Regions from separate parts of the Homo sapiens genome. Here regions 1 and 3 are each linked to region 2. The links come from fine-mapping of genetic effects on gene expression. A gene starts in region 2. Each other region holds a variant in brackets. All regions are shown on one strand. Distances are from middle to middle.

What was found. PIP is the estimated chance that this variant, and not a neighbour inherited with it, causes the effect.
Region 1: its variant is the best candidate, but not a certain one, in a credible set for the expression of DGCR2 in whole blood (INTERVAL, PIP 0.69).
Region 3: its variant is the best candidate, but not a certain one, in a credible set for the expression of DGCR2 in whole blood (INTERVAL, PIP 0.55).

What each region holds. Positions count from the first base shown.
Region 1 is chr22:19,026,705-19,037,027 of GRCh38, reverse strand. FAM246C (family with sequence similarity 246 member C (gene/pseudogene)) reads right to left here and starts at 7,504. Exons shown (of 3, transcript NM_001396027.1): 1 at 7,264-7,504; 2 at 7,228-7,262; 3 at 6,807-7,226. The coding sequence starts at 7,504. The coding sequence ends at 6,807. It overlaps DGCR5 (DiGeorge syndrome critical region gene 5), which reads right to left. Exons shown (of 6, transcript NR_110533.2): 6 at 5,786-6,246. It overlaps DGCR2 (DiGeorge syndrome critical region gene 2), which reads left to right. Exons shown (of 10, transcript NM_005137.3): 10 at 1-742. It also overlaps the pseudogene CA15P1. RefSeq lists an enhancer at 1-356 and a silencer at 840-1,009. The variant C/G (reference allele first, on the strand shown) is at 6,041.
Region 2 is chr22:19,118,212-19,128,534 of GRCh38, reverse strand. It overlaps DGCR2 (DiGeorge syndrome critical region gene 2), which reads left to right and starts at 6,123. Exons shown (of 10, transcript NM_005137.3): 1 at 6,123-6,407. The coding sequence starts at 6,329. It also overlaps the pseudogene TSSK1A. RefSeq lists silencers at 5,799-6,238, 6,359-6,478 and an enhancer at 6,263-6,764.
Region 3 is chr22:19,080,252-19,090,574 of GRCh38, reverse strand. DGCR2 (DiGeorge syndrome critical region gene 2) reads left to right here. Exons shown (of 10, transcript NM_005137.3): 2 at 1,085-1,207. Among named protein-coding and RNA genes, the nearest start is that of DGCR2, 37 kb to the left of the region's middle. RefSeq lists enhancers at 3,532-4,031, 4,032-4,533. The variant C/T (reference allele first, on the strand shown) is at 4,476.

The sequences.
Region 1 (10,323 bases), 92 kb after region 2:
CAGGTGGCCAGTGAGGGCCCGAGGACCACGCAGCAGAGTCCCCCACGGGCCTGAGCCTGAGAGCTCAGAGGATTCCTGCCAGGCCTCAGAACTGTGTGTGCGGGACAGGGTGGCTGGCACGAGATGTGTGGGACTGGGACGCTTCCTTTGGGGACCAGAGGAACATTAGGGGCCGGTCAGACACGTAGGGGGCAGTGAGGAAACGGGGTAAAGTGGACCATGCAGGCTGCAGAGGGTGGGCCTTGGGCTGGCCGGGGTTGCTGGGTGGCCCCTTCCCCATGGGCCTCCACAAGCACTCAGGCCACTGGCACGTTGGGCCAGGCAGAAGGTCCACATGGCAGGGCTGCCTGGAACACCGCTGCCACTGTGGCTCCAGGAGGCCCTTGGGAGCATGAGGAGAGCTGGACTCGCTCATCTGTTCTTGCACCACCATCCAGAATGCCCCCTTTGCAAGGCCTGCTGCAGTCCCCAGTCTGACCAGCAAGTCCCGGGGTCACCCTTGCTGAACCTTGTGCTCCAGGGGTCCTCCTCCTCTAGGACCAGCTTGCCACGGTTTCTCAGAGCCCAGGTGCCCTCTGACCTGCCATGCGGAGGTGGGATTTGATACTGTACATTGTCTTGATGCCTGTTTTTTTATGTTTTCATTAAGGGTTTTTAGTTTTTGGTTGGGTTGACACTAACTTTTCTTAAGATGCTGTGAGAATCATTTCATCCAAATGCCAAATAAACTTGTGTTCCGGAAGAGGCATGGTTAGTCCTTGGTGTGGCCCCCACGGCTGCCACAGGCTAAGGTGGAAGAGGCTGGGTACCCACCTTTCAGCAGAATGCACCTAGGGTTTGCAGCCCTTGCAGGCGTCCATCAAACCCCCTGAGGACCAGGCAGAGCTGAGCCTGGAGCCCCTAGGTGGAGTGTGCAGGGAGAGCAGCAGCCCTGAGCTGCCTACAGCTATCCTGCAGCACCCAGCCCTGCTTGGGGCATCGGCTGCTGCCTTGGCAGGTGTTGCTGACGTGCACAGGATCCACATAAAGGCAAGGCTGCTTGACACCATCTGGGAGCTAGCATGGGACGGGGTGGTAGGGCAGGGCTTGGAACCTGGCCGTCAGCGCCATTTCCTCTAAGCTCCCCTCATCATCCGGGTGGCTGGAAACAGCCCCTCCCTCCAGTCCAAGCCACCTAATGTTACAAAGTAGCCTAGGTCCTCTGGGGCCTCTTCACTCATGTCCAGCAGTGCCATCTCTAGGTCTCAGAGGGTAGTGGGCCCAGGAAGTGTGATTGCATGCCCTGCTCTGGGGGCACTCCAGATGTGTATACTGGGGGGACGTCCTGCGGCCGGACACGAGAGGAGTCAGGGTTAGGAAAGGAACTGGTAAGTCCCTTGGCAGGGATGGGAGCCTCGAGGATGTGGCCCCTCATTTTTTATCCCATCTGCTGGGGCAGGAGTGGAGTGGTGGTGTTGAGTCCCGAGCACACAGGTCACTGTCAGCACTCTGGACAGAGCCCCGAGCCCTGCCTCTGGGTAGGGGCTGTCTTCCCATCCCCAATGTGGGTAGGGCCCTGCCCTCTGGCGATTGGAAAGAGGCGCAGGGTGCAAAGAAGTCCCCTCCTCTGACCTCCTGCAGGGCTCCGTCTTGGCCTGGATCCGCAGGGGGGCCTGGGTAGGAGGGAGGCTGTGGTCTTGGGATGGGGTGGCAGTTCCGGGCCCACAGTGGGGCAAGAGACATCCTACACCTTCCTCCCATCCTTGCCCCGAAAGTCATGGGCACTGGGGTCCAAGGTGCCCTCACTATTTGACCTTTCTTGCTGGTGGCTTTGGTGTGTCATTCTGGTCCCCAGCCTCTGTTTCCTGGACTGTAAGTGGGGATAATAATAGGTCACCCCTCCCCTGCAGGATTAACCTCAGCGATTGTTGCTGGCATCAGTGCAGCCCTGGGACCAGAGCACACCTGGGTGAGTTTGGAGCGCTCGCGCTCTTCCTGGTGGCCCTGCCTGGGCACCGACCCCTCCCATCCTCTCCTCAGTAGCCACGCCCCTAGCCCAGCTAGCTAATGAATAAATATGTAGTAGCCAGGCCAGCATCCTGGCTGCGTGGTCTAGCCACTTTCTAGTCCTTCCTAGCTGCGGCTGCCACTGAGCCACGCACGCCCCTGGCATCATGCTCGCCTTGCGGTGCAGCTGGTGTGGCGCAGACTCTGAGAGTGAGCACCAGGACTCTTCCTGTCTGGCCTCCAATCTACCCTCTTGCCATGCTCCACCACCCCTTAGGTCTTGCCACTGGGAGTGGGGAGGGACTGGGGAGAGAAAATACTGAGGTAGGGGTGACAGGAGAGAAGGTTCTTCACTGGCCTCCCCTGGCCTAAACCCCTGACCTACTTCATTCTTGGACCCCAGCTGATGGGATGGGGCTTGGAGAGGGCCCAGATGACTGGCCTCTCAGCTCAGCCTCCTGCCCACTGTCTCTATAGGTGCCTGGTGCTATGACTCCCAGGACCTCAAGTATGGTGAGGACAGAGTGTCATGTGAGGCTGTGTCAGATCAGTCTGTGTCCTGGGACCACCAGAGCATGTGCCAGTGGTGCAAGAGTGGCCAAGAGACAGTCTGCACCCTGCACTCTGTGGCCTTTGCAGGTTTCTGTCTGTAGTCGTCTGCCCCAGTAGACTGACTGGGCATCAGGTGCAAGTGCGTGACTGTCCCCCTGTGTGTGAGTCTGGGCCTGCTGTGATTGCCGGTCCCGAGTCAGTCAAGGCTGGTGTGCCCGTTACTGTGGCCAGCCCAAGTGTGTGCAGGTGATAGAGGTCCCAGTGTGGGTGTGCAACTGTGTGCCGGAGACCCTTCCACCTTCATCTCACCATGGGGCAGCCAACTGGGAGACTAGATGGATAGGTCAGATGCAGGGTACAAGAGAAGGGGGGTGCTGTGACCTGTTCAGGTGTGGGGGAAGCAGGGAGCTAGGTTTCCTGAGGCTGGGCTATCCTCTGGGTGTATGGGGGCCACTCTCTGCTGCACCCCCAGGCTGCCTCCCTGACCCCCCCCCCACCCCAAAGGCCCCAGTCCTTGTTCCAGCAGTCCCCACCCACTGGAAGAAGCTGGCCCCCTGCCTGTGGGGGCCCAGGCCAGTCCCTCATCAACATTGACTTTCACAGGGTCCGGCGGAACTCTACCCTAGGGCCCTTCATCTTCCGAGGCTATGACTCAGCACCTCCAGGCCCTTGGACCCTGGAGAATGACAGCCACACAAGTCAGCACCCTGTGGTCAGGACCCCTCCTAGGCAGAGGCAGGAGCCCCACACAGGGCATGAGAGCTCCTGCGTGTACACAGGGACCAGGACCCCCTACACACGGGAGCTGAGACAACCTACAGGGCCAAAAACCCTCCACAGGGGCTAGCTTCAGAGGAAAGGAGCATCCTCACACAGCAGTCCAGATGCACCCTCTGTGTAGGTGCCAGGTCCCACCTTACAAATCACAACCAGCCATGGCCCCTGAGGACCAGGAGTCAGGGTCTCTGGCAGGGCCAGGATCCCTGACCACACACAGCTGGGCTTAGAGCCCCACACCAGGAGGGCTGCCCTCTGCCCTCTTCCATGCCATGCTGGGTGTGGGGGGGGGAAGGGTTTCCCCTGCAGTCTGTGGAGCTCTGCTCTGCTGACCAGCAGGAGCCATGGACACCATGGGTTCCATTCCATGGAGGCAATGGGGCCGCACTGGGGAGAAACCTGGCCTGAGGAAGGGCCTCTGCTCATACCCTGTGCCCTAATGGCACAAGATGGACAGGTGGTGAGGTAGAGAGGGTGTCGTGTGCCTCCTCCCCTTCATTGCTACTCTGAATGGACACTGATCCTCAGAACCACCTGGAGATTTGGGAGGCTGGGCTGCTGTTGCCTGTCTACCGCGCACTGCAGCTGCACTTCAACTGCCGGCGGTGGGGGGGCCCGAGGCGAGCAGACTCGGAGCACAGCCTGGACAGGCAGCGCCAGGCTATGGAGGTAGACTCGGGAACAAGGTGGGGTGGCCGGAGTGCTCCCACGGAGGTGAGAGAGAGCAAGGTGAGGGCAGCTGGGTATCTCCCACATCTGTGCCTCCCCCCAGATGCACGTGGTCCACAGTAACACAAAGTACCAGAGCATGGAGGAGGCACCACGCCACGGTGATGGGCTCGAGTGCAGGCCCTGCTGCTGGAGGTGCTGCTGGCGGTGAAGGCAGGGCTGTGATTCTATGTATGTTTCCAAAAAAGGGGTCCATGGGGATCCTGGAAGTGGACAGGCCAGGCCTGTGGAGTCCGTGGGGGGATCTCTAGGGTCTATAGGATCTGTGGGAGGATGGGGCGGTGGGAATGCCTGAATCGGCAGGGCCAGTGGCGGCGAGAACCCTCCACCCCATTTCCCAGATGCCAGATGCCTCCTGCCACTGGGAGCCTCCTGCTTAGAGTACCCCAGCTGAGTTCCCTCTTCAGAGACTCCCTCACTCAGAACCCCTCGCACTTGGAGCCCCTCCCAGGAGCAGGACTGTAGCAACACCAACTTCTGCGCCATAGTGTCGGGCTTGAGGAAGGTGCCTGAGCCAGGTGAGGAGCCACCGGGTCGTTTTCCGGCTCAGGGGCGGGGGGTTTGCTGGGGATGGCACCAGCAGGGCACAGGGAGGCTGGTTCCAATCCCCCTCCCTCTGCCGCCCGGGGCTCTCAGTGAATCTGATGTCCACCTTCCCGCTGGCGTCGATGCGGCCCAACACCTCGAGCTACTGTCGCTTCGCTGGGTCGCTGACCCCGCCTGACTGCGAGCCCACGGTGCTCTGGACCGTCTTCGAGGACCCCATACCCATCCGGTGGGTGCAGGTGGAGCCACCGTCCCCCCTCGCCCCCCACACCCCTCCCCGGGCCTTGCCTGGCTCCTCCCGCAGGCGCTGCCCCTCTCCCACCCCGTTTTGATCTCTTTGCCCTGCACCCTCAGATGACCCTGTTCTACACCCTGCCCCAGGCTGGACCCTCCCACTTTCACCCCATACCGCTCACGGGTAACTTCCGCCCCCAGCAGCCTCTTTTTTTTTTTTTTTTTTTTGAGACGGAGGCTCACTCTGTCGCCCAGGCTGGAGTGCAGTGGTGGAATCTCAGCTCACTGCAAGCTCTGCCTCCCAGGTTCATGCCATTCTCCTGCCGCAGCCTCCTGAATAGCTGGGACTACAGGTGCCCGCCACCAGGCCCGGCTAATTTTTTGTATTTTTAGTAGAGACGGGGTTTCACCGTGTTGGCCAGGATGGTCTCGATCTCCTGACCTCCTGATCCGCCTGCCTCGGACTCCCAAAGTGCTGGGATTACAGGCTTGAGCCACCGTGCCCGGCCCACAGCAGCCTCTTAAGGGGCACGCAGTCTTGGCCTCTCCGAGAGCCTCGGTCCCCGCAGCAGCCCCCTGCTCTTCCCCCACCCTAGCAGTTGTGCACTGCGCTCTGATGGGCCTGGGGCTCAGCCTGTGGTTCTGTCAACCGTGGGCGACCCTCCATGTGAAATAATGAAATAATGCACAGAGTGACCTTAGCCTAATGTAGCCTGGAGGGGGTGGGTGCGTGACCCGGCGTGGTCCCCCATTGCAAGAGGGGCATTTCCTGCCCTAATCCCACTGAGGCCTCAGTGTGCCTGTCTGTTCCGTGGGAGCCCTCTGAGTGACCCTCTCCTACCTCAGCAGAACCCGGGCCTCTCCAGGTTCCTCTCAGAGGGAGAAGGGCCCCCACCCTCATCCTATACATTGTGTCTGAATCCCCTGGTCAGATGGAAGGAGAACATCTAGCAGTCAGAAATTCCACCATTAGGCCAAGATTACATTATTTTATTTTAAAACTAAGCTGGGTGGCCAACCCAGGGACACCGTGCTCTGCTAAATGATGACTCCAGCTACATTTCCCGAGGCCAAGAGATGAGAAGCTGCTGGCTCCAAGCTCCGCTGCAGGCTGCCCTGGCTGAGCGGGTGCTAGGCACCGCGGAGCGCTGCCTGGTGCTCTGAAGCCATGCCCCAGTGCCTCCCTGGGAGTTCTGCTGTGGAGTCTGTGTGGAGG[C/G]TGACTCTGGAGAGATGTTTGTGTCCAGGTGGCTGCCTGTGGTCTGGCTAAGTAAAGGGGTGAGTATTCTTGGTGTCACTGTCCAAAGCAAAGTTGTGTCCATGGGACACAGACTAGGTGAGGCTCTGTGTCCAGGTGATGCTGTCCAGTGAGAGGGGGTTGCAGTCAGAGTGAGGCTGACCGGAGGCCTCTGTCCAGTTGGTGCCCTGTGGAATGTGATTACATACTGGTTGACACCATCCTGAGGACCATCACCAGCTGAGTGTCTCAGCCGCCCTGTGTCCCTGGGTTCTGTGCTCTTGTGTGTGGTTTGACACTATTCCAGTGCGTGGAGACCCTGCCTCCTCACTGAGACCTTGCAAGAAAAAGAACCTGCAGTCACCCCAAGGAAGAGGAGTCTCGGCTGTTCCCTGGAGGCTGACCCAGCCCTGGCCCAAAGGCTGACCCAGACCCAAGGCCCAAAGGCCCACCCAGACCCAAGGCCCAAAGGCCCAGCTCTAAGGTCCAAAGGGGCTCCACCCTGTTCTCTAGCCGGACTCAGTCTCTGGCAAGGACCCCGGCTGCCAGCTGCACTCCCTAGACGCACGTGGCCCACCCCCTCCTTCCAGTACCGGAGCCCTAACTGGCGGCACCCGGGCACCCTTTTGACTCAGAGCCACGCTCCACGAGGGGGACCGATCTGCTCACTTGCCCCGTCCTGGGGGTACCAGAGTAGCCAGCGCGACGCCTTCCGCACCTCGCCTAGGCTGCCCTTGTGCGGCCGCCCTCAGTCCCCGCCACCTTGCGGGGCCCCAGGCGGCACTGGCATCTTCTTGTGGTTCTTCCTGGCCGGGGCTCGGTGCGCTCCGCATTCTGCTGGGCCGTCCGGGGCGTCGTCTGCGGGCCTGGAGGCGGCGACCAGGGCGCTCACGGTGCCGAGCGTCCGCGGCAGGGTCGGGCCGCGGGGCGCGGCGCGGGGGACGGCGCGGGGCTCGCGGCGGGCAGGCGGGGACGGCGGCGGCGGCAGCAGCGCGCGCAGGGCATCCAGCTCCGCTCGAAGCTCCGCGCGCAGCGCCTCAATCCCGGCGCCCAGCTCCTCGCGCACTGCCGCCAGGCCCTCCTGCAGCCGCCGCTCGCTCACCTCCAGGACCCCCGCCGGGTAGGTGGCCCCGCCGCGGGGCTCCCCGCATACCGAGCACACGGAGCCCGCGGCTGTGCGCGCCGGTCCTCTCGCCCGCGCCCGGCCGCCCCGGCCCCCGCACGCTCCACCAGCTTCAGCAGCCGCGGCACCTCGGACCGCGAAGCCGCTTCGGCCCGGAGCTGGCCGCGCAGGCGAGCCATCCGGCCCGGGGCTCGGGCGTCTTCCTGGCCCGGCCCATTGGATTGCGGCCCCGGATCCCGCCGGCGGCCCGTGCCGCGCCGCAGCACCTCGCTGGCTCTGTACGCACTACGCGCCTGGGCCCACGGGCGGCCGGGCTCCGCCATCCGCCCTGCTGCCTCCACCGCCGCCAGCGCCCGGGATGGCCGGGAGCCCCAGGCTGCAGCCTAGCGACCGCTGGGGCCCAGGCGACGCACCGTGGAGGGGGCCCGCGGGACGGCTGTGGGAACGACCAAAGCCCTGGGGGTTCCGGTCTGGGGCGCAGGGAACCCCGGCAGGGCCGGGTCTCGGGCAGCCCGGTTCCCAGGGGACCCTGCGGGAACGACGACGTTGTGGGCAGGTCCTCACAAAGGGCATGGCCCAGTTTCTGGGCATAGGTGACATGGAGCATCGCCAGCCAAAGACCAGGCACCACCCGCTAGACACGAGTCAGGAACTGAGCTCACATTTTACACTGGAAGCTACTGTCTCCATCATAGTCAAGGGAAAGCCAGGAGTGGTCATGGACCCCACAGCCCTTTTCAATGGCTCAGGGCGACGTCCTTCCATGTAGTCCAGGCCATTATCTCCTCACCCTGTCCCCTAGTCCACACAGCTGGAGGAATCCATCCAGGTGGCATCTCCAGCCCCAGGCTGCTGGCCCTTCCATGGGAGCTCTTCAGGGTCTCCCTTACTCTCCAAGGCGGTCTGCCTAGGGCCTCTGGAAATCCCTGGCCATCTCAAGCTGGGTTTTTTGTTTTGTTTTGTTTTGTTTTTACAAACAGGATCTTGCTGTGTTGCCCAGGCTGGAGTGCAGTGGTGCAATCATAGCTCACTGCAGCCTCCACCTCCTGGGCTCAAGCGATCCTCCCACCTCAGTCTCCTGAGTAGATGGGACTACAACTGTGCACCACCATGCCCGGCTAATTTTTTTTAATTTTTTTTTTTTTTGTAGAGATAGGGTCTCACTGTGTTTCCCAGGTTGGTCTTGAACTCCTGGCCTCAAGTGATCCTCCTGTCTTGGCCTCCCAAAGTGCTGGGATTACAGGCATGAGCCACCATGTCCAAGCCTGTCTGTGTCTTTAACCTCCTCTAATCCAACAGTCTTCTTCATCCTTCTGGGTCTTTGCATAATTCCTCTCCCCCCCCACCCCCGCCATTTTCCTGGTGGCTCTCACTTTTCCCACTTAGATAGGGAAACGTTCCATGACCACCCCATCCCACACTGGGGACCTCGAGCCCCTCCTCCACAGCACCCTTCACAGTTGTATTTAAATGACTGTTTTCCATCCACCCACTGTGGGGTCTCTGAGCCCAGGGCTGGGTCATTTCTCCTGGGCCGAGTGTGGCACTAAGCATACTGAGTGCTAGCCTGCACAGAGGCCAGGCCCGGGTGGGCCCCAGGACAGAGCTGTCAGTGGCTGTCTTGCCATGGAGTGAGTGGATGAATCAGCAGGGCTGGGATCCTCTCCCATTTTACAGTAGGAGGCTGGGGAGAGGAGCTGGCCAGCCCGTCCACCTCTGCAGCCTGGCATCTGAGGCCCTCATGGCATCCCTGCTGGTCTGCCTTCCCCTGCAGCCCTTCCACCCTCTGTGGAGCCCTCACTACTGCACCCTACTCCTTCTCACCCCAGTGCCTCTGCATAAGCAGTGCTGCCTGTGGCCGCCACAGGGCCCTAGGTATGGGCAGAGAGTAGTATCCCCCACACAGCATGCTGTTCTCCCTGTACCCCCAGGGGCTAGTTAGCACTCTGGGTGCCCTGGACTCTGGGGCCTCCCTCAGCAAATTGTGGAGGGTGGCCTGGCATGAATCCAGGCAGATCTGGGAAGGGACATGGCAAGACAGCCCCTGGAAGCTGTGTCCCCGGGTCCACCGGGATCTGGCCCCTGCAGGTCAGTGCATGTGTGCATGTGTTGGGGGGGGGATTGAGGGGACCGCTAATACTGTCCTCAAGCAGCTGCTGAGGAGAAGACTGGGTCCCTCTAGTCATGTTCATCCACTCAATCACTCCCTGCAGCCCGTCTCTCTGGAAGGTGCAGGAGGAGGTGAGAATTGGGCACTCTGTCAACCCCTCAGACTCCCCCATTCCTGCTGAGTCACCCGTCCTCTGGGACCTCCAGCAGCTGGCTGTGCTGATCCCTAGAGCCTCATTAGCCATTCTCTCCCTCCCCCCAGTCATTAAAACACTGCCAACAAGAGCGCCCTGGGTTCTTTTCCCCAGCCCTACTGGAGACGGGCTGTGTGACCCAGGGGCTCTGCCCTCTCTGAGCCAAGTCTTCACCTGTGAAATGAAGAGATCTCTGAGGTCCCCAGGACGGATGACAGGGAGGCCTGGACGGTGAAGAAGGTGCAGGAGAGAGTCCAGATTTGCAGAAAGAGCTGTTAGTTTTGTGATCTCTGCCTGGAGGTTTATGGACAGGTTGGAAGAGAAGCTGAGCCATTGCAATGAGTCCAGATTAGGGCTTGTTCCTGCAGGGGCTACAGATGTGGGGGCTGGCACTTGTGGCAGAGGGTTCCAAAGTCATGGGCATAGAGAAGACAGGTTGGCAGGAGCAAGGGCAGAATGGGAGCGGGGTCCTGGGGGTCCTGTTGGGCCCTGAGGAGGACTGCAGAGGTGTCGGTGAGGGGTGGACAGGCAGGCGTGTCAGCACAACCCTGAGCCCCTGAGCTCAAGTGCAGGGATGGCCGTGAAGCAGGTGATGGGGACCCTGGCTTGAGCTTCATCGGTAGCGGGGCTGGGGTGGACACCGGGGACTGGCGGAGAGGAGATGGGGTGGGGGCTGGTCAAAGCAGTGTGTCCCTCAGGGAACGTGGCAGAGCGGGGCGCGCACACAGGTCTGCTCTCCAGTTCCTCCGGGAAGTTCCTCAAATTCAGCCAGCTCCAGCTGCCCCTGGCACAGAGGAGCTGACTGAGGCTCCAGTGCAGGGCCTGCTCCTTCCCCTCCT
Region 2 (10,323 bases):
GAATTACAGGCAAGCACCACAACGCCCAGCTAATTTTTGTATTTTTAGGAGAGATGGGATTTCACCATGTTGCCCAGGTTGGTCTCGAACTCCTGGCCTCAAGTGATCTGCCTGCTTCGGCCTCCCAAAGTGCTGGGATTACAGGCATGAGCCACCGTGCCCTGGCTGCATATCTGCCTTCTTCCCAGACTCTACCAATGCCTTCTCCCTCTTTTTGTGCATTCTACTTCTTCACCTCCTGAGGGTCTCTCTGGTTCTTGGGGGACATGCCAGAAGAGGCAGGTGTCAACATTGCAGAGGCAGAACTGCCCGGGCATGGAGCGGGCCGCTTCATCCAGGATGCACACACAGGGCCGGCACTCCTGGTATGTTTGACAGAGAGCTTTGGATTCGACTTGGAGACCTCCAGCGTTGCTCCTAGGGTTGCAGTCCTGTGAGCAAGGTACCTGCACACTCTGAGAAATCCACTTCTCTCTGAACCTTCCTATCCTTTATAAAGTAGACACCTTTTTACCTATTTGTCCCCCAAGCACTGAGGGTCTGCCCTGGATGCCGAGGTACACTGATGAGCTAGACCACCCATGCCGTCCTGGAGCCCAGAGGCGAGGGAGGCTCAATCACACCAAGTGTGTGTGCGCGATGGTGGCTGTGCCACGCATCAGAACCATGGTGCTGTGAGGACAGGGAACTGGGGATTGGACTTTGGGAAGCTGGGGAAGGCTGAGGTCTGAGGAACTAGCCAGGTGGAGAGGGATGAGGATAGCTATTACATGTGACGGTTTGAAGGGATGTGGCTTGGCAGGAGCACGGACAGGCCATGGAGGGCCCTGTTGAGGTCCTGGTCCTAGCACCTTTGAGAATCCTTGAAGGGGTCTGAGCCAGGGCTGAGCCACCTACAGGAGTCGCCCGGCATGGCGAGGCCACCTGTGGAGGCGTCACCTGGGACTCCTGCCCTGGGCAGTGTGATCTCAGACAGGTGGCCCACTCCCTCTGAGCTGTTTCCAGCTGTAAAGCTCAGAGCAGGAACTCCTCCTGCAGCCCCTCCCACCCGGGCTTACCTGGCTGAGCTACAGTGAGGCTCCCAGACCTGCTTGCCAGCCACTGCCCTGAGGACCAGCGCAGGTCCGTGGGGATAATTGAGGAGGAGGCCCCAAGAGCCATTTCTCAGGATGTCCCACCCGGGCCCCCATCCCAGCACTCTGGGCTCCCTCTCCACCATGAGTTTCTTGGTGGGAAAAATAGGGTGGCTCCTTGAGGCCTGTTGGCAGAGTACACAGTGGCAGGCTGCTGAGAACCCCTAGAAGGCTTTATGGAGGCCTCAGCCTCTCAGCTGAGCCTGGAGAGCTGGACAGAGTCTGCAGGGGCGAGTTCCCTGTATGATTATGGGCCGTGTGTGTGATGGGGGCGCAGTGGTGAGGCCTGGTGCCCAGAGGCCAGGGGAGGATGCACTGGGCCACAGGAGGACCCCAGAGGCCAGGGTAGGTTCCTCCCCACTGGGCAGTGGGAGCCAGGCTGGTGGGGGATGGCTCTGGACACTGTCGGAGGTGGTGGGAGGGTTGGGGTGGAGGCCTGAAATTAAACCACGTGGAAGGGGGCTGTGAGAACATGAGGAGGCAGGTGGACTTGGGGAAGAGCGCAAGGAGGGCCAGTCCAGGCTCTCACTAGACCCTACTTCTCCAAGGGGACTGAGGTTGGGGTCTTCCCGAGGTAGAGAAGTGACCATAGGTAGACTGTGGACAGTGATCATCGATGTTGCTGGCAGTGGAGCTCCTCTGCTCTGACATTCTCTGTGTCCAGCACCTGCTTCAGGCCCCGCCCTGGGGGAGTGGGAGTCGCATGACAGTCCTAGCCTTGGGTTTGACTTTGGCCCCATCCACTTAGAGGCCATGGGAGAGGTAATTCTGAAAGCGCTTGTCCTTTGTGGTTGCCTGTCGTATCCTACTTGCCAGTGTCAACTTCTAATGCAGGGGTGTCGTCCCTTGGGACAGGCTGGGACGGGGACAACAAGATGTGGTCAAGACCACACAAGACTGTGGGACATGCTCAGGCTGGAGTGTGGCTGGGCCATCCAGCAGAGCCTCCTATTTCTCCCGGGCTAGAGAATGACCACAGGGTGCGGCGACCCCGGCACTGTTGAAAGCTGGGTGCTGGCTGGACACAGGGGGCCTCTGATGGACAGAGCACAATGAACGAGTTGCCCAGCAGGGTAGGGAGCTCAGGAGTGGCTGAGAGGCTGGCCACCTGCCCTCTGCAGCCTCCCACAACCCCCACTGGCAGCCTTGTGGGGCTGGAGAGGTCTGCCCAGACCCTCAGTCCCAACTGCAGATAAAGCCTGCGCTCCTCTACAGGGGTACCTCGGCATGCTTCTTGGTCCTGTCCTCTCCCTGCCCTTTCCCGACCCCAGCACCGCACTTGGGGGCGTCCCTTCTGAGGCAGCGGCTTCCTCACTCACCTTTCAGCTCTGGCCCCTGCCCCTCCAGGTCTCTCCCAGCCCCAGCCCAAGCCCCAGCCCCAGCCTGGGCCTGAGGTCATGGTCTGGACTGGGCACGTTGGGATGTGTTTTCCCAAGCAAACGAGGAATCATTGCACAATCTGAGTGGGAAACCAGTGGAGGGGAGCCCAGGACTAGTCAGTTGAGGCAAAGACATTCACTTTGGCATCTGCATTAATATAGTGATTTATTGCTCCTTTAGCAATGTCGGTTATGAAGTTCAAGGGGAGAGAGAAGAAATTGATGAAAACAGCGGCTCATCCGGGACCGTCTTCCTTCTCTGGTTTGTGCCTTGACTTCTTCAGAGCTTGGGCCTGAAGGCGTGAGCTCCATCTCATTCGCCGCTGGCACACTGGGCCACAAACGGCTCACTAGGTGCGCATCTCTGGAGGCTGCTGGGGGGCCCTTCCTCTTTCTCCCTGGTCGACGGCTTGCTGGGGAAGCCTAGGATGTCCGACTGCCTGGACATTTGCATTGCCAACCCCTCAGGTTTTGTCTCAGGCTGTCCCTCGGGCTGTGTCTGTTCCCCAGGCTCCAGCTTGGTGGCAGACCTCTTGGCAGAGCCAGGTTCAGGGGTCCACAAGAGTTCAGTTCCCTGGGAGCTTTCCCCCTCCTTGTTGAAGACCATAGAGGGCAGTCCCTGTGCCTTGGGCTGCACCCAGCATTGGCTGAGGGTGTCATGGATGTGCAGCCGCTGGCTGACGTCGGGCTGCAGCATGCAGTAGATGAGGTCCTTGCACTCGTCTGTCAGGTTCTTGGAGTGTGGGAAGTCCACGCGGTGCTCCTTCTGGATACGCAGCATCTTCCTGATGTTGGAGTCGTAAGGCATGGAGCTGCAGACCATGATGTAGAGGATCATGCCCAGGCTCCAGATGTCATACACCATGGGCTGGTAGGGGATGCCCTGCAGCAGCTCGGGGGCTGCATATGCCACCAACCCGCAGAAGTTCTTGCTTAATCTCTGTTGGCCACTGTCATCCCGCAGGCAGAGCTTGGAGAACCTGAAGTAGAACAGCTTGATGTTGAAGTCCTTGTCGAGGAGAAGGTTCTAACACTTGAGGTTCTGGTGCATGATGTCCAGGTCGTGGCAGTATTTAATGGCTGAGGAGAGTTGGTGGAACATCTTGCACGCCATGTCCTTGGGCAGGGCTCCCTGGCACTCAATGAACTAGTTTTTTTTCTGCCCCTGGCTGGGCTCCCAGGGCAGATCTGGGGCTGGGGGCTAAAGGCGGGGACTGGATGCCACCCTGAGCACTGGTGGCTGCTCTGAGGACAGTACAAGCAGCAGGGGCAGCACTGGAGAGTGTGGCCATTGTTTTTTCTGGCAGTGGAGCCCCTCTGCTGTGCCAGGCTCTGTGTCCAGCACTTGTTCCGGGCTATGCCCTAGGGGAGTAGGAGTCACATGACTATCCTAGCCTTGGATTTGACTTTGGCCTCATCCACCTAGAGGGAGTGAGCACCCCTTTCTCACAGGAGCCAAGTGGAACCCTGGGCCCCTCAGGATGACTTGGTAGGGCGGGCTGGTTGTCACTCATGTTGGGTTGGGTCCCCACCTGCCGTGGCCCTTCCCCCTTTTCTCTGCTCCTTCACCTTCTTCCCTAACGCTGACTGCCCACTGCCAGGCCTTTGTGCATTCTTGGTTCTCCTCCTTCCAGACAGCCTCCTTCTCCTTCCCGCTGGGGACACCCCAACTACTGTCTCCTGGAAACCAAAAATAAAACTCTAACCCCCCAGCCATCTGAATGGACCCCTCCTCTCCACCAAGGGCATTCCAAACTTAACCTGAAAAACTATTTCAGGCCGTGATAGGAAGTGGGAGTCAGGCCTCATTATCCCTCCTCCCTTCAGGTTTCAGGCACAGCTAAGCAGTGTAACATCGACACAGAGACTTGAAGACTGACAACAGACTCTGTGGCAGTAAGATACCAGCATGACAGCAGGCCCGGAAGGAAACACATATTTTACTGCAAAACAGGTTTCTTTCACATATTTTGAAGTCGCTCTGCAAAGCTGTTTTTTGTGGGGAAAATCTACATTCTGTAGAGAATCCCTATCCCTTTCAAGGTCTTTTCTCCTGAGAGAATTAACTAGAGTCTGGCACCTTTTATTTATTTTTCCTTTTTTTTTTCCTTTTTTTTTTTTTTTTTTTTGAGACAGAGTCTTACTCTGTTGCCCAGGCTGGAGTGCAGTGGCATGATCTTGGCTCACTGCAACCTCTGCCTCCCCGGTTCAAGCGATTCTCCTGCCATCAGCCTCCTGAGTAGCTGGGATTACAGGCGTGTGCCACCACGCCTGGGTAACTTTTGTATTTTTAGTAGAGATGTGGTTTCACCATGTTGGCCAGGCTGATCTTGAACTCCTGACCTCAGGTGATCCGCCCGCCTTGGCCTCCCAAAGTGCTGGGATGACAGGCGTGAGCCACCACACCCGGCAGAGTCTGGCACTTTTTAATAAGAAACATTAACAGTCTTTTCTCTGTGAAGCCTGATACCTGGAGGCTTCATTTGCCTAAGAAACTTGGTCTCCACAACCCCTTAATGTAGACAGTCCCTTTTATTGATTCCAGGTCTTTAGATAAACTCTTTGAACCAACTGCCAATCCGCATGACCTAGAAGCCCCCCTCCACCCCCCACTTTCAAGTTGTCCCGCCTTTTCCGACTGAACCAATGTATATCTTACATGTGCTGATTGATGTCTTGTCTCCCTAAAATGTATAAAACCAAGCTGTGGCCCTACCCCCTTGGGCACTTGTCAGGATCTCCTGGGGCTGTGTCCCAGGCTATTGGTCACATATTGGCTCAGAAGAAATGTCTTCAAATATTTTACAGAGTTGGACTCTTCGCCGACACTGCCCTCCAAGGTTCACCCTGTTGGTGATGACGGGAGAAGTGGCACTTGGAGCACTGTTCGCAGGGGCGCTGAGCCTCCTCTCTGCCTAGCTTTCTTTCCTGCACATGTGGCCTTCCCCTAGCCATTGTGTAGGCAGGTCCTCCAGGGAGCCGGCTTCGCTGCAGTCTCCAGGACCTGGCCTTCCCGGTCTCTCTTTGCCTGACACTCTCTTAGGCCATTCCTGTTCCTCTTTCCCCACCCTCAGAACCGGCAGGCCCTCCCTCCTCCACAGCGGTTCGGCCTTAAAAAGACCCCTTTGGGGCGCACTTTTGGGCTGCTCACGGGACCTGAGCTTGCAGGTGTGAAGACCCTTGGAGTCCCAGCCAGGTTCCCACTTCGTTCTCTCCGCTCCCCACCCGCGCGACCCCTCGGCGCCCCGCCCCATGCCCCGCGCCTTTCGATGTCCATCCTTGCCGTCCCGCGCCCGCCGTCCCTAACCGGCGTCCAGAGACCCTACTCCCTTCGGTGGCCCCGCCGCTCAGGCCCCGGCCCCGGCCCTGCCTCTCTGCTTAACCAATGGCACGCCTCACTCCGTATGGTCCCGCCCTTCCCTTAGAGCCCGCCCCTCAGTCCCCGCCCTTAGGTCCCCGCCCTCCGCCGTCGCGACCTTAGGCCTCACCCTCTTCGGAGGGCTTTGGCTCTGGCCCCGCCCCCCATCTTGACGGTCATTGGCCCGCGCCTGCGTCGCGGGCGGGAGGCGGGGCGGGGCGGCGCGGCGCGGAGCCGAGCAGGACGGCCGCCATCTTGCGCGCAGCTGGAGTCGGTGCCTGAGGTTGCAGCCGAGAGTGTGCGCCAGCCCGCGGCCCAGCCGAAGCTCTTTCCCGCCGCCTCTCCGCGCCTCGCCCAGGTTCAGCTCCGCCTGACCCTCCGCTTGGCACGGTCCCCTGACCCTCAGTCCGGCCTGGTCCGGCCTTCCAGCCGCCCCGGGGACGATGAACGGAGGATAAATGGTGCCCAAGGCAGACAGCGGCGCCTTCCTGCTGCTCTTCCTGCTCGTGCTCACTGTCACCGAGCCGCTGCGGCCAGGTGCGCCGCGCGATGGGGGCGGTGTGGGGGCTGGGCGGCGAGCGGGGCCGGGGTCGCCCCGGGACCTCCTTTCACCCGCGGCGCCCTCCTGCAGGGGCCGCGCCTGGGGCAGGGGCGGGCGGGGCCTGGCTCGCGGGCCGCCTGGCACTCTCTGCGGACGCCTGCTGGAGCTTACCTGGGCTCGCGGCGCCTCGGACTTCGTGCAGCTCTGCTGTCCAGGATGTTGCCTCTGGGCCCTTCCCGGGAGCGGCGGCGGCCAGGAGCTACGCCACGGGCGCACCCTCTCGCCAGTCCAGCGTCGGAGTCGGGCTGGGGACAGTGGCTCTCAGGGGCACCTGGTTTCACAGACGTCCTCCCAGCAGTGGCCTAGTGCCAGCCTCTCAGTCCTGGAAACTCCTCGCCTGGACAGCGGTGGTTGTGGCTGTCATTCAGTGAGACGTTGCGCTAAGGAAGTCCTCAGGTCCCACCGGGCCTAGAGGAGGCACCAGGAGTCAGCCTAGCGTTGTGTGGCCGGCGCGAGCGTCCCGGGAGCAGAGACCTCGCCACTGTGCGGGGCCCTTAGCCGTGCTGCGTGTATGTGATGAATGAGTCCGTGCTTTGGAACTCCCCTCGGAGCTAGTGTGTTCTTAAGTCTGTGGTGGGGAATCAGAACCGTGGCAACCAGGAGACCCTTTTCTACCTATTTCGGTGTACCTCCCCTTGAACTGCACCAAAAAATCAAACTCCCTAAATGCAGGGCCGATGTATCCATCAGGCACAGGAATCCTGGTATCACTTGCCCACGGTACTTTTAGTAGCCTTCGAATGTTATTTTATTTTTTTTTAAAGTCAGCAGAAAAAAAATGAACTTTTAGGTCAAATAAAATGTTTTCGTATGTATATTAATACAGTCATCTTTATACTAATACAGTGAAAAAGCATGACTCTTAATATTTCTTAATGGAGGAAAGGTCCCATGAAGGCAGAAGTGCCAGGGCCATCTTCTCTGATGACCTGGGTGTGGGAGCACGGGGTGTGTGGCCCTCTCCTGTGCCCTAGCCAGGCTCCCAGCCCAGATACACCGCACCTCTTGGCTCTGCGCTTGTGTCATCTATGTGGAATGTCTGCCTCCTCCCTAGTGCCTGCCTGGTGGCCAAGGCCCTGACCGGTGCTCAACCTGGACAGATTCAGTGATGCTTCTCTGGTCTCCCCATGTAGAGCTAGTTGCTCACTGCTTTTGGCTGCTCTCTGGGCAGCGGGATGACTAGTTGTGGGGTGGCCTTGGTAAGAACAGAAGCCAGGAAAAGGGCTACCTGTGGAGGAGGGTATCATATAGGCTCTTGGAGGTCAGAACCAATGGGTTTGTGGATTCTTGTGATTAACTTCTTTAGAAAACATATATGTACGTGTAGAGAGGTAGAAGGTCACCGTTTTCTGATTCTTGAGTCCCAGTTTTGCAGATGAGGTCACCGGGCTCAGGTGAGGCCATATTATGCCTGGCTTCTTTGGGGTGCCTCTGGTTCCAGGCCCAGCATCTCCTGCCTGGGTGATAGAGGTGACTGACGTCCCCGACTCCTTTTTCCTTGCCAGCCTTTTCACATAGCCTGCCAACTGGCCAGCAGCAACTGAGAAAGTGCCTGTGGGTGCTTGCCCCCTGCCCATCCCTAGGGAATCCAAGTGACAAGAACAAGCCCCTCCTTTTAGGAGTGCCTGATGTGGAACAGAGGCCAGGTGTAAGTCACTTGTCACACTCCTGTGTGTTGAATACCCTGGAGTGTGGGGTCCCAGAGGTGGGTGGAGGTGGCCATCTTTTTGTACCTGTGAAGCAGTGAGGGCGTCACAGGAGACCTCACACTGAGGTCGGAGTAGGGCATGGGTGGGGTGGATCTGGTAGAGGGAGCAAACTTATTCTTTCGATTCCATGACTCTCCAGATGAGAACATTGCAGCTACCCCTGGAGGCGTCTTGAGTTGCCCTGCAGAACCCGGGAGCTGCAGCTGGCTTCCTGGCTTTGGCTGGGCAGGGAGGGCAGGCCTCTGGGCCTGATGTGTTCCTTGTATGCCCGTGTGTGCCTCTTCACACATTCACCATGTGTCCTTCCTGAGAGTGCTGCAGGGATCTGCCTGGCTGGTGCTTGCAAGAGGCTGGGGCTTCTCTGGTCTTAGTCTGCGTTCTTTCTGTGGGGATTCCGGCCTTAAAAGCATACTTGAGTATGAGGAAGGTATCAGTCAGAGCCCACTTCTCAGGAGGGTGTTTTCTGACTCCTGCCTGGTGGGGTCCCTGAAGATGATGCCAAGCCACCTGGGCTTCCTCTCTGGTACAGGGCAGGGTGGAAGGCCTTTCATGGAGTTATGGGGCAGCAAGTGCTTGCTGTACTTGACCTTTCACCAATTTTTTTTTTTTTTTTTTTTTTGAGACAGAGTCCTGCTCTGTTGCTCAGGCTGGAGTGCAGTAGCGTGATCTTGGCCCACTGCAACCTCCACCTCCTTGGTTCAAGCGATTCTCCTGCCTCAGCCTCCCGAGTAGCTGGGATTACAGGCATACGCCTCCACGCTCGGCTAATTTTTGTATTTTTAGTAGAGATGGGGTTTTGCCATGTTGGCCGGGCTGGTCTGGAACTCCTGACCTCTGGTGAGCCACCTGCCTTGGCCTCCCAAAGTGCTGGAATTACAGGCCTGAGGTACCATGCCCAGCAATTTTTTTTTAAGTGCACATTTGAACTTGATTTAAGATGTGTCATGTGCCGGACACTGTTCTAAGCACTAACATATGTTAACTCTCAAGAGGTCCCTGCTAGATGCTGTTTTTAGCCTCATTTAAAGATGGGGAAGCTGAAATCCAGAGCACTCATGAAGCTAAGGCTGAGATGAGATTTCATCGTAGGAGTCTGGCCTTCCCCCCATCATGCACCCGTGACTGGGGTCTGTGCACTCCAACTGTGTGTCTCCAGCCCAGCCACAGGAGTACCTCATATTATGCTCTGAACAGCTTCCTTAACCCCAGGTGGAGCCACAGACTGCCTCTGTCCCCTGTTAGGTCCCAGGGTCCTCTAGGTGAGGGTGCAGAATCTTTTTCCATGTGGATACTCCAGTCTGAGGGACAGAACCACTCACCCTCTGCCAAATCCCTTCTGTGTTTGGCCATGTGACCACTGATGATGTGTGTTATGATCACTGGGGGTGTGATGAGGAAGAACGGTTGGAGACTACTGCTGAGGTAACTGACAGCGAGATGGTGGGGGGATTTGGGGACCACTGATTGTGATACTGTCTCATTGGCCCTTTCTCCATCTGTGTAGAGAAGGCAGCATCGACTGCTGATTCTAAAACTGTTTTTCTTTCTAGCTTTAATTGTGAAACAAAATTATATCATGAGCCACAGCTCTATCCAGGTTGAACCCACCATACATAGCTGAGAAAAAATTGCCTTCTGAATGCTGGTGCACCCTGGTCCCTTCCTGCTGGTTGTTGGTCCTGTACAGGGCCTGTGCTCAGCTAGGCCCCTTGGTAAGGTAGAGGACTAGAAGGTCGTCTTCCTTCTATTGTTGGTACAGCTAGCTGGGAGAGGCAAGTGACTTGTCTAAGGTCACACAGCTGGTGAGCAGCAGAGCGTGGGTTCAGACCCAGGTGGAGCTGGCTGCTAGCTCAGGGTTCTTTCTCTTTTGCTTTCAGTAGGCAGCTGTGCTGAGCTGATCACATCTCAGGGAGCTGAGAAGTGAACACAGCACCTTGGCTCTGGAGTCCAGAGTTGTTTTTTTTTTTTTTTTTTTTTTTTGTTTGCGATGGAGTTTCTGTCTGTCACCCAGGCTGGAGTGCAGTTGCGGGATCTCAGCTCACTGTAACCTCCACCTCCTGGGTTCAAGTAATTCTCCTGTGTCAGCCTCCAGAGTAACTTTGATTACGGCGCACGCCACCATGCTGGGATAATTTTGTATTTT
Region 3 (10,323 bases), 38 kb after region 2:
TGTGTGTTTGCTTTAAATAATTGTAGGTCAACAGCTTTTTCTTTCAGAACTTTAACATGTCACATCACTGTCTTCTAGGCTGTATCGTTTCTAATGAGAAATCTGCTGTCATCTAGATCTTTGTTTTTCTGTGCATGTCTTCTTTTTCTGCCTGCTTTTAGGATTTTATCGCTGATTTTAAGCAATTCAATTCCAATGTGACTTGGAATTGTATTGTTTGTATTTCTGGTGCTTGTGGTTCATTGAGCTACCTGGATTTGTGGGTTTATAGTTTTCATCAAATTGGGAAATTTTCCCCATTGTTTCTTCAGATGTTGTGTCTGTTCCCCCATGTATTAGGGTGTGTGAGGTTGTTCCACAGCTTACTGATGATTTGCACATTTTTTCCTGGTATTTTTTCATTCTGTGTTTTAGTTCAGAGTGTTTCTATTATTATATCTTCAAGTCACTAATCTTTTCTACTACAAAATCTAACCTGTTAATGTTCTGCAGCGTACTTTTCATCTTAAGTGTTACAGTTTTTATCTCTAGGTAATAGGTTCGTAAAGGGCCAGGCATTAAATGTTTTCAGCTTTGCAGGCCATATAGTCTTTTCTGCAGCTACTCAGCTCGGCTGCTGTAGCTTGAAAGCAGCCATAGACAATACATATTTGTGGCTGTGTTCTGATAAAACCTGATTTTAAAAACAGATGGGGGCCAGGCACAGTGGTACATGCCTGTAATCCTGGCACTTCGGGAGGCCGAGGCAGGCAGATCACTTGAGGCCAGGAGTTCAAGACCAGCCTGGCCAACATGGCAAAACCCCGTCTCTACTAAAAATATAAAAATTAGCTAGGCATGATGACACATGCTTGTAATTCCAGCTACTCAGGAGGCTGAGGGACAAGAATTGCTTGAACACGGAAGGTGAAGGTTGCAGTGAGCTGAGACTGCACCACTGGCACTCCAGCCTGGGTGACAGAATGAGACTCTGTCTCAAAAACAAACAAACAAACAAATGGGAAGAGATTGATCCAGCCCATGGGCTATGGTTTGCTGGCCTACTGCCACTTCCTCAATGGCCTCTCACCCTTTGGTCCCACAGAGCTGCGGTGCAACCCTGGGCAGTTTGCGTGTCGCAGCGGCACCATCCAGTGCATCCCCCTCCCCTGGCAGTGTGACGGCTGGGCGACTTGCGAGGATGAGAGCGACGAAGCCAACTGTCCAGGTGAGTGTGTTGAGTAGGCGGGGTACACACCACCTTGTCTCTTTGTTGTAGCTGGGTGACTGTGCCTCTTGTGAGGGGTGGAGGTGTGTGCTGTCTTAACACATTGGAAAGTTAGTTTGAGCCGACCCCTTCCTCTCTCTCTGTCTTTCTGTCTTTTTAAAAAATAAGTGCCCAACCTAGGCAGATCCCAGAACTTGCAAGATGGCAGGGCTGTGGGGAGGCCCGTGAGATGCCCAGGAGGCTCCACTTAAGGAGGCGCTGCACTCCCTGGACTTGGATGATCTTGAGTGTGAACCCCTCCTGAGGGGTGGCACCTTGGCCACCTCTCTGACCTTATCCCCATCCTGGCTCTGGATGTGGGTGCCTCTTGATCCTGAATGTGCTCTTTTAGACTGGCCTTGGCACGCCCTCCCCTCCTGCTCACTCATTCACCTGGAACTTTGCACTCACAGGTTCTCTCCTGGCCATTATGTAGTCTCCTAAAGATGTATGGAAAGGCCACAAAAAGGCTAAATCGGAGAACCAGGTTCTTCACCTGGTTTCTGCCTCAGCACCCTCAAGGAATACAGGGCACCCCATGAATAACAATGTTCACTGGATCCGTTGTTCTCAACTTTGGTTGGGTGGGAGGTGTAGTGAGTACTTGTGCATGTGTGTGTGAATGTGTGAGACATACATATACATGTATCCATGAATTCGTTTTTAAGACTAGGTGGTGCTGATAAAGCCACTAAGGGGAAAGTGTGTCTTACCCCAGCTTGAGAATCACAGGCTTAAATGCTTTGGCCAGACATGCAGACTCCTTCACAAGCTGGTTTAGGTCTGCTTTGCCAACCTGATTTATCACTACTTCCCCTTCAGTGGCTCAGCTGGGCTGTTTCTTGTGCCCACCCCATTAATAATCTTGTAGATGTGTGCTTCCTTTATGTTTTCCTGGAATTCTCTTGTTCTGTTTCTGCATAGACAAGCCTTACCATCCTTCAAGGTGTAGCTCAGATGTTACCCCAGTGGGAGAATGTCTGTGGTCCCTCATTTTATAGATTGGCTTCTTCCAGTCCCCCATTCGTCCCTCTCTTATAGCATCAGAACCATTGGTAATTCTCACCATTCCTGGTGCCCAGGCTTGATTTTTCCATCCAGACCATGAGTTCCCAGGGGGCAGAGACCTTTCTCCTTCCTTAGTGGGACTTGGCCTAGGACATGAAAGGTGTGCTGTAATTCCTATAGGCTTAGTACTGAAGGAAAACCAATTCATTCCAACCAGGGTATTAGGTAGGGGATTAGGTGACATTTGAACTTGTGGTAGTTCTTTGAGGGGGGGTTCCAAAATAAGAAGCAGAGATGGTCTGGTCAGATTGTATTTGCCTGTAAAGAATGCTGTTTAGGCAGGGTGCGAAGGCTCACACCTGTAACCCAACACTTTGGGAGGCTGAGGTGGGTGGATCGCTTTAGGCCAGGAGTTTGAGATCAGCTTGGCCAACATAGTGAAACCCCGTTTCTAATAAAAATACAAAAATTGGCCAGGTGTGGTGCTGCACACCTATAATCCCAGCTACTCAGGAGGCTGAGGCACAAGAATTGCTTGAACCTGGGAGGAGGAGATTGCAGTGAGTCAAGATTGTGCCACTGCACTTTATCCTGGGCTGCAGAACAAGACTCTGTCTCAAAGGCAAAAAAAAAAAAAAAAAAGCCAGGTGCAGTGGCTCATGCCTTATAATCCCAACACTTTTGGAGGCCGAGGCAGGCAGGATCACTTAAGGTCAGGAGTTTCAGACCAGTCTGGCTGACATCGTGAAATCTCATCTCTACTAAAAATACAAAAATTAGCTGGGCGTGGTGGCGAGCACCTGTAATCCCAGCTGAGGCAGGAGAATCACTTGAATCCAGGAGGTAGAGGTTGCAGTGAGCTGAGATCATGCCAGTGCGCTCCAGCCTGGGCGACAGAGTGAGATTCTGTTTCAAAAAAAAAGAAAAGAATGCTGTTTAGAGGGGGCCCCTCCTGATCATCTCTGGAGCCCATTCTTCATCAGATTATGCGTGTCTCTGGTAGAGGTGTTTGCCTTTCCAAATGAGGGTTTGGATGGTGTTGGCCCGGTCAGGAGCCTCTGGGACAGTCCTTTGTCTGGGAGCCTCTCTGGTGGGTCTTTGGGGTCAAAGCCCAGAGAAAGTGGATTCCCAGTGGGCTTCCCAGTGCTTGGGCTGCTGAAGTTCCCTGGTTGGTCAGCCTGGGGACGACCATGTGGTTATGAGTGGGAGCCTCCCCTTGTCTGACTCATAGAGTGAGACCTTATATCCAGCCTCTTGGAGAATTCCTGAAGAGAGAACCAGATGATTCTTGGTTTGCTTTCAAATGGAAGCAGAGTTTATTTGTTGTTCTCAAAGTGCCATTTGGCTTTGCTTTTGTAGTTGTTTGTAATAACTGTCCTGTTACACACGCTGAACATAGTGGTATCCACACTCATAGTTGCCACCTTGTTCATCTTTCCACGCTCTGAAGACTTGTTGAAGGCAAGGAGTAGGTTTTATTTCTCTTGACCACATGGCCTGGCATGGAGCAGGCATCAACTTTGCACTTGAGTATTGGCTTGAAGTTACATTGGTTGCCATATGTTTTCCCTAGACAGAAAAATAAAATCTCTCATAGAAGCCGAAAGTTACGAGTGGTGGCCTGCACCAGGGCTGAGCAGTGAAGGCATGACAATGAGGACCCGTGTGTGCAAGCCCCCTGAGGCTTGGTAGGGCCTAGGAGTGTTCTGGGTGGGCTGAGGAGGCCACTGCCCTGACAAGGCTCACCCTGCTTCTCCTTGACTCACGGTCCTATGATTGTCCTTGTATAGTGCTGTGTCACAGTCTGGAGGGTGAGCAGATTGATTTCTTTTTTTTTTATTTGAGATGGAGTCTCGCTTTGTTGCCCAGGCTGGAGTGCAGTGGCGCCATCTGGGCTCACTGCAAGCTCTGCCTCCCGGGTTCATGCCATTCTCCTGCCTCAGCCTCCTGAGTAGCTGGGATTACAGGCGCCTGCTACCACACCCGGCTAATTTTTTTTGTATTTTTAGTAGAGACAGGGTTTCACCGTGCTAGTCAGGATCGTCTCGATCTCCTGACCTTGTGATCCGCTCTCCTCGGCCTCCCAAAGTGCTGGGATTACAGGCGTGAGTCACTGTGCCCGGCCAAGCAGGTTGATTTCTAATTGTTCTTAAAGTTGAGATTCTGAGCAAATTAAGTCATAAAAATGTACAAAGAATGTGTAATACGTATTTTCTTACTT[C/T]CTTGAATTAATGACTGCTAAATCTTGTGATTTTTTTTCTAGTTTATTTTAAAAGAAATTTTTAAAAAATCATAGATATAGAGTCAAGTCCTCATTGACACTCTCCCTTCCCCCAACCTCCTCCCCTCTCAAAAAAGGAAACTCTTTGTGTTTGTGGGGGAAGTAGAGAGTTAGCTAATAACCACCCTTGCTCAAAAGCTGTGACCTTCCTTTGTATGAGGAGAGTTTCAGTAACCCCTAGGGAAGCCCTGGGCCATTCTCAGTCAAGTTGCTTTTGAACTAGACTTCAGGACTTCTGGAGTTACCTTATGGGGTTACTTCATTGCCCTGCTAAAAGCCTGCTAAAAAGGAGTATAAAAAATGTAAAACCAAAGGGACAAAAAAAGGGGAAAGATGTAACAGTAGATCAGTAATTTCTGCATGTTTTTGAAAAGAGGGAAATGACATGCTAGGTACAGCCTGGGCATTCAGTACCTTCCCACTCACTCCCTTCTGGGCTTGTCCGTGGGTTTCAGAGGCTGGAATGCTGGAGCAGTAGCACTCAGAACCACCTGGCAGCAGGCTTCTGTGTGTCATTTGCCCTATGACATGTGTCTTGGGAAATGTGGCAAGTGGAAGGGAGGTGGAACCTTTCTTCCTCAGGCCATAGTGTATGTTGGGGGTGTGCATGGGCTTAGATTTTTGAGGTGACTTTTTGCAGTGGCTTCTGCCTTCCCCCACTGGCCAGCTGTCTCAGGGCTGCAGAGCAGCTGCAGTATTGGCAGCAGATTTTTGCAGTTTCCTAACCTATAGATGGCAGTAGTAGCTTCCTGACTCTTGACAATGACTGTGGGAATTAGATGGGGAGTTAGCCCACTTTACTTTTGCTCACACTATATAGCCTTGCCAGTTGTTTTGAAAGCACCTATTTTCTGTATTAAACCCTTCGTGTTAGAAATCCCTTAGCATGGTTTCTGTTTTCCCAGTGGAACCATCTTTGTTTTTTTTTTTTTTTCCAAGGCAGGAGAATTTTTCTTAGTACAGAACAAAATGAAAAGTCTCCCATGTCTACTTCTTTCTGCACAGACACAGCAACCATCCGATTTCTCAATCTTTTCCCCACGTTTCCCCCTTTTCTATTCCACAAAACCACCATTGTCATCATGGCCCGTTCTCAATGAGCTGTTGGGTACACCTCCCAGATGGGGTGGTGGCCGGGCAGAGGGGCTCCTCACTTCCCAGAAGGGGCGGCTGGGCAGAGGCGCCCCCCACCTCCCGGACGGGGCGGCTGGCCGGGCGGAGGCGCCCCCCCACCTCCTTCCCGGACGGGGCGGCTGGCCGGGCGGGGGCTGACCCCCCACCTCCCTCCCGGACGGGGCGGCTGGCCGGGCGGGGGCTGACCCCCCACCTCCCTCCCGGACGGGGCAGCTGGCCGGGCGGGGGCTGACCCCCACCTCCCTCCCGGATGGGGTGGCTGCCGGGCGGAGACGCTCCTCACTTCCCAGACGGGGCGGCTGCCGGGCGGAGGGGCTCCTCACTTCTCAGACGGGGTGGCTGCCGGGCGGAGGGGCTCCTCACTTCTCAGACGGGGCGGCTGCCGGGCGGAGGGGCTCCTCACTTCTCAGACGGGGCGGCTCCCGGGCAAAGGGGCCCCTCACTTCTCAGACGGGGCGGCTGCCGGGCGGAGGGGCTCCTCACTTCTCAGACGGGGTGGCCCGGCGGAGACGCTCCTCACCTCCCAGACGGGGTCGTGGCCGGGCAGAGGTGCTCTTCACATCCCAGACGGGGCGGCGGGGCAGAGGCGCTCCCCATATCTCAGATGATGGGCGGCCGGGCAGAGACACTCCTCACTTCCTAGATGGGATGGCGACAGGGAAGAGGCGCTCCTCACTTCCCAGACTGGGCGGCCGGTCAGAGGGGCTCCTCACATCCCAGATGACGGGCGGCCAGGCAGAGACACTCCTCACTTCCCAGACGGGGTGGTGGCCGGGCAGAGGCTGCAATCTCGGCACTTTGGGAGGCCAAGGCAGGCGGCTGGGAGGTGGAGGTTGTAGCGAGCCGAGATCACGCCACTGCACTTCGGCCTGGGCAACATTGAGCACTGAGTGAACGAGACTCCGTCTGCAATCCCGGCACCTCGGGAGGCCGAGGCTGGCGGATCACTCAAGGTTAGGAGCTGGAGACTAGCCCGGCCAACACAGCAAAACCCCGTCTCCACCAAAAAAAATATGAAAACCAGTCAGGCATGGCGGCGCGCGCCTGCAATCGCAGGCACTCGGCAGGCTGAGGCAGGAGAATCAGGCAGGGAGGTTGCAGTGAGCCGAGATGGCAGCAGTACAGTCCAGCTTCAGCTCGGCATCAGAGGGAGACCGTGGAAAGAGAGGGAGAGGGAGACCGTGGGGAGAGGGAGAGGGGGAGGGGGAGGGGGGAGAGGGAGAGGGAGAGGGGAACCATCTTTGATATAAACGAGAATTAACAAAAGATGTGTAAAATTTTTGAGGGAGAAAAATTTGCAGTTTTATTAAGAGACATTAAAGAAGACAAGTAAATAGTGGCAGAATGTTCTTGCCTAGGAAGACCGAATCTTTTAAAAACTCATATTGTTCTGTGGATTCAGTGCATCTTTAAAGCTCCGTGAGTTTTATGTGAAATGCGATAAGTCGATTCTAAAATGTTGAGAAGAATTAAGTCGTAGTATTGAGAGGTCGTTGTGAAGAAGAGGAATGAGGAGGGAGCACTTGCCTTGCCCGTATCAAGATTTACTTCAAAATTGGCTCAGGGAAATCCAAATTGGCCAGTGAGACAGAAGCTGTCAGAAACAGACCTAAGAAGCTTGAATTCCAGAGGTGGAATTACATATCGCTGTGCAAAGGGCAGACTCTTCAAACACAGTGCTGTGACAGTCGGAGAAGGATGCAGTTGGATCCCTAACTCACAACATACAGGAAATTCAGTTTTGGATAAATTATAGGAGACTATCTTTAAGACCTTGATAGGGAAGTGTGCCTTTTTCTTTTTCTTTTTTTTTTTTTTTGAGACAAGGTCTGGCTCTGTCACCCAGGCTGGAGTGCAGTGACACGTTCTTGTATCACTGCAACCTCCGCCTCCTGGGCTCAAGCCATCCTCCTACCTCAGTCTCCGGAGTAGCTAGGACTACAAGCGTGCACCACCATGCCCGGCTAATTGCATGTTTTCGTAGAATCGGTGTTTCGCCACGTTGCCCAGGCTGGTCTCTAACTCACGAGTTTAAGCAGTCTGCCTGCTTCGGCTTCCCAGAGTGCCTGGATTACGGGGGCATGAGCCACTGCGCCCAGCCACCTTTTTCTTTTCTTTCTTTCTTTCTTTTTTTTTCTGTTTTTTTTTGGAGATGGAGTTTCGCTCTGTCACCCAGGCTGGAGGCTGGAGTGCAGTGGTGCGATCTCAGCTCACTGCAACCTCCACCTCCTGGGTTCAAGTGATTCTCCTGCCTCAGCCTCCCGAGTAGCTGGGATTACAGGCATCTGCCACCACGCTCGTCTAATTTTTGTATTTTTAGTAGAGACGGGGTTTTGCCATGTTGGCCGGGCTGGGCTCGAACCCCTGATCTCAGGCGATCTGCCTGCCTCGGCTTCCCAAAGTGCTGGGATTACAGGTGCATGAGCCACCATACCTAGCCTCTGGCCACCTTTTTCTTAATCACATAAAATATTCACTCTAAAATAAAAATGACTGAATTTGCTAGATTAAAATTAAGATCTCTCGTTTATTGAAAGACACCAATAGGCCAGGTGCTTATGCCAGGAATCCCAGCACTTTGGGAGACCAAGGTGGGCAGATTGCCAGAGCCCAAGAGTTCCAGACCAGCCAGGGCAACGTGGTGAAATCCTGTCTCTATGAAAAAAAAAAAAAAAAAAAAAAAGAAATAATTAGCCAGATGTGGTGGTACACACTTGTAGTCCCAGCTTCTCAGTAGGCTAAGGTGGGAAGAATCACCTGAGTCCCTGAGGTCAAGGCTGCAGTGAGCCGAGATTACACCACTGGACATCAGAGTGAGACCCTGTTTCAAAAAAAAAAAAACAAAAAAAACCCCAAAAAACACCAGTAAAGACTGTGAAAAGACAAGCTAGAGTAGAGAGAAGATATTTGCAACACTTACAGCCTGTAAAGGATAAGGATTCTAATTCAGTGTATATAAAGAACTCCTATAAAGCATTTCGTAGATGGTGATTAAACATAGAAAAAGACATTTAAATTTAACCTCGTTAGTATTCTAAGACTACATACAGTGAGATACCACTTTACAGATGCTTAGACTGGCAAAAATTAAAATGTTGGAGAAGATATGGATAGTGTGGAAATTTTATGTGCTTCTTTACACCCACTCTGGAATAGAGACATTATCTTGCAAAGCTGAACATTCTTATTTTCTGTGATCCAGGATTTCTATTTAGGGAAACTCTGGAAAAATCCTTGCAGAATTGTTTGTACAGTTTTTCCAGAGTGGGTGTAAAGGAGCAGATAAAATTCCAAGCCATCCACATCCTCTCCAACTCTTGGTTTTGTCAGACATCTTAATTTTTGCCATTGATACATGTCTTGGAAACAACCCAAATGTCTGTGCTCACATGATGGAATGTTATACACCAGCAACAGTAAGTGAATGTTAGGTTTATGCAGCAACATGGATGAATCTTGAAAACAGAACGTCAGCTAAAAGCAAGTTGCTAAAAACGACATATGGCACAATATAGAGAAGCAAAACAGATCGTTATATTACTTATAGATACATACACATGTGGTAAACTAAAAGAAAAAAATAAGCGCAGTGATACACAAAATTCTAGTTCCTGGTGGAGAGACAGAGGGATATAAGACTGGGAGAAGCAAAATAATGCTTGATTTCCTAAATGGGGTGTGGGGAGGTCGCTCACAACTATATTATTAGGCTTATGAATCTTACATGTGTGCTACATACATTCTTTGAAATGTTTCACATATTATACAGCTTTTTTCCTTTCCAAAGAAAAGCCAATGGGAGAGTTAAACTGACCTGGTGTAGCAGAGCAGCTGCAACCATGGGCCTGCTTGAGTGAGAACAACAAGAAATAAGCAGTTTGCCCAGCAGCCTCCCAGAAAGGCTCAGCGCTTGAAGGCTCTGAGTGCCAAGGGTGGCAGGCATCAGGCATAGGCATGGGAGTGGGATAGGGATTGGTGGAATTCTCTTGGCACTCGCATTCCCTTCTTCACTTTCCATCACTGGGTGACTCTTTCTGCTACCATAAGATGTGGGGTTTCATTTCTTTTTTTTGAGACAGAGTCTTGCTCTGTTGCCCATTGGAGTACAGTGGTGAAACCACAGCTGAATGCAACCTCAAACCCCTGGACTCAAGCGATCCTCCCACCTCAGCCTCCTGAGTAGCTGAGACTACAGGCGTGTACCACCATGCCCAGCTAATTTTTAAATTTTTTGTAGAGACGAGGTCTCGCCCTGTTGCTGAGGCTGGTCTTGAACTCCGGGGCTCTAGCAATCCTGCCCCCAGCCTCCCAAAGTGCTGGGATTACAGGCATGAGCCACTGTGCCCCGCAGGAGTTGATTTTCTAGACCAACACTGTCCAGTGTAGTAGCCATGAGTCACATGTGGCTGTTTTGAAGGAAGATGTGCAGCAGGTGTAAAATACACACCAAATAGGAAAGACCTAGTACAAAAAAAGAATGTAAAACATCCCATGAATACTTCTTTATATTGTTTCCATGTTGCAGTAATAGTATTTTGAATATATTGGGTTAGATAAAGTATTAAAATTAATTTCATGTTTGTTTCTACTTGTTGAAATGTGGTTTGCATTGTGTTTCTATTAGACAGCACTTAAAGTCTGCAAAATAAGTGAC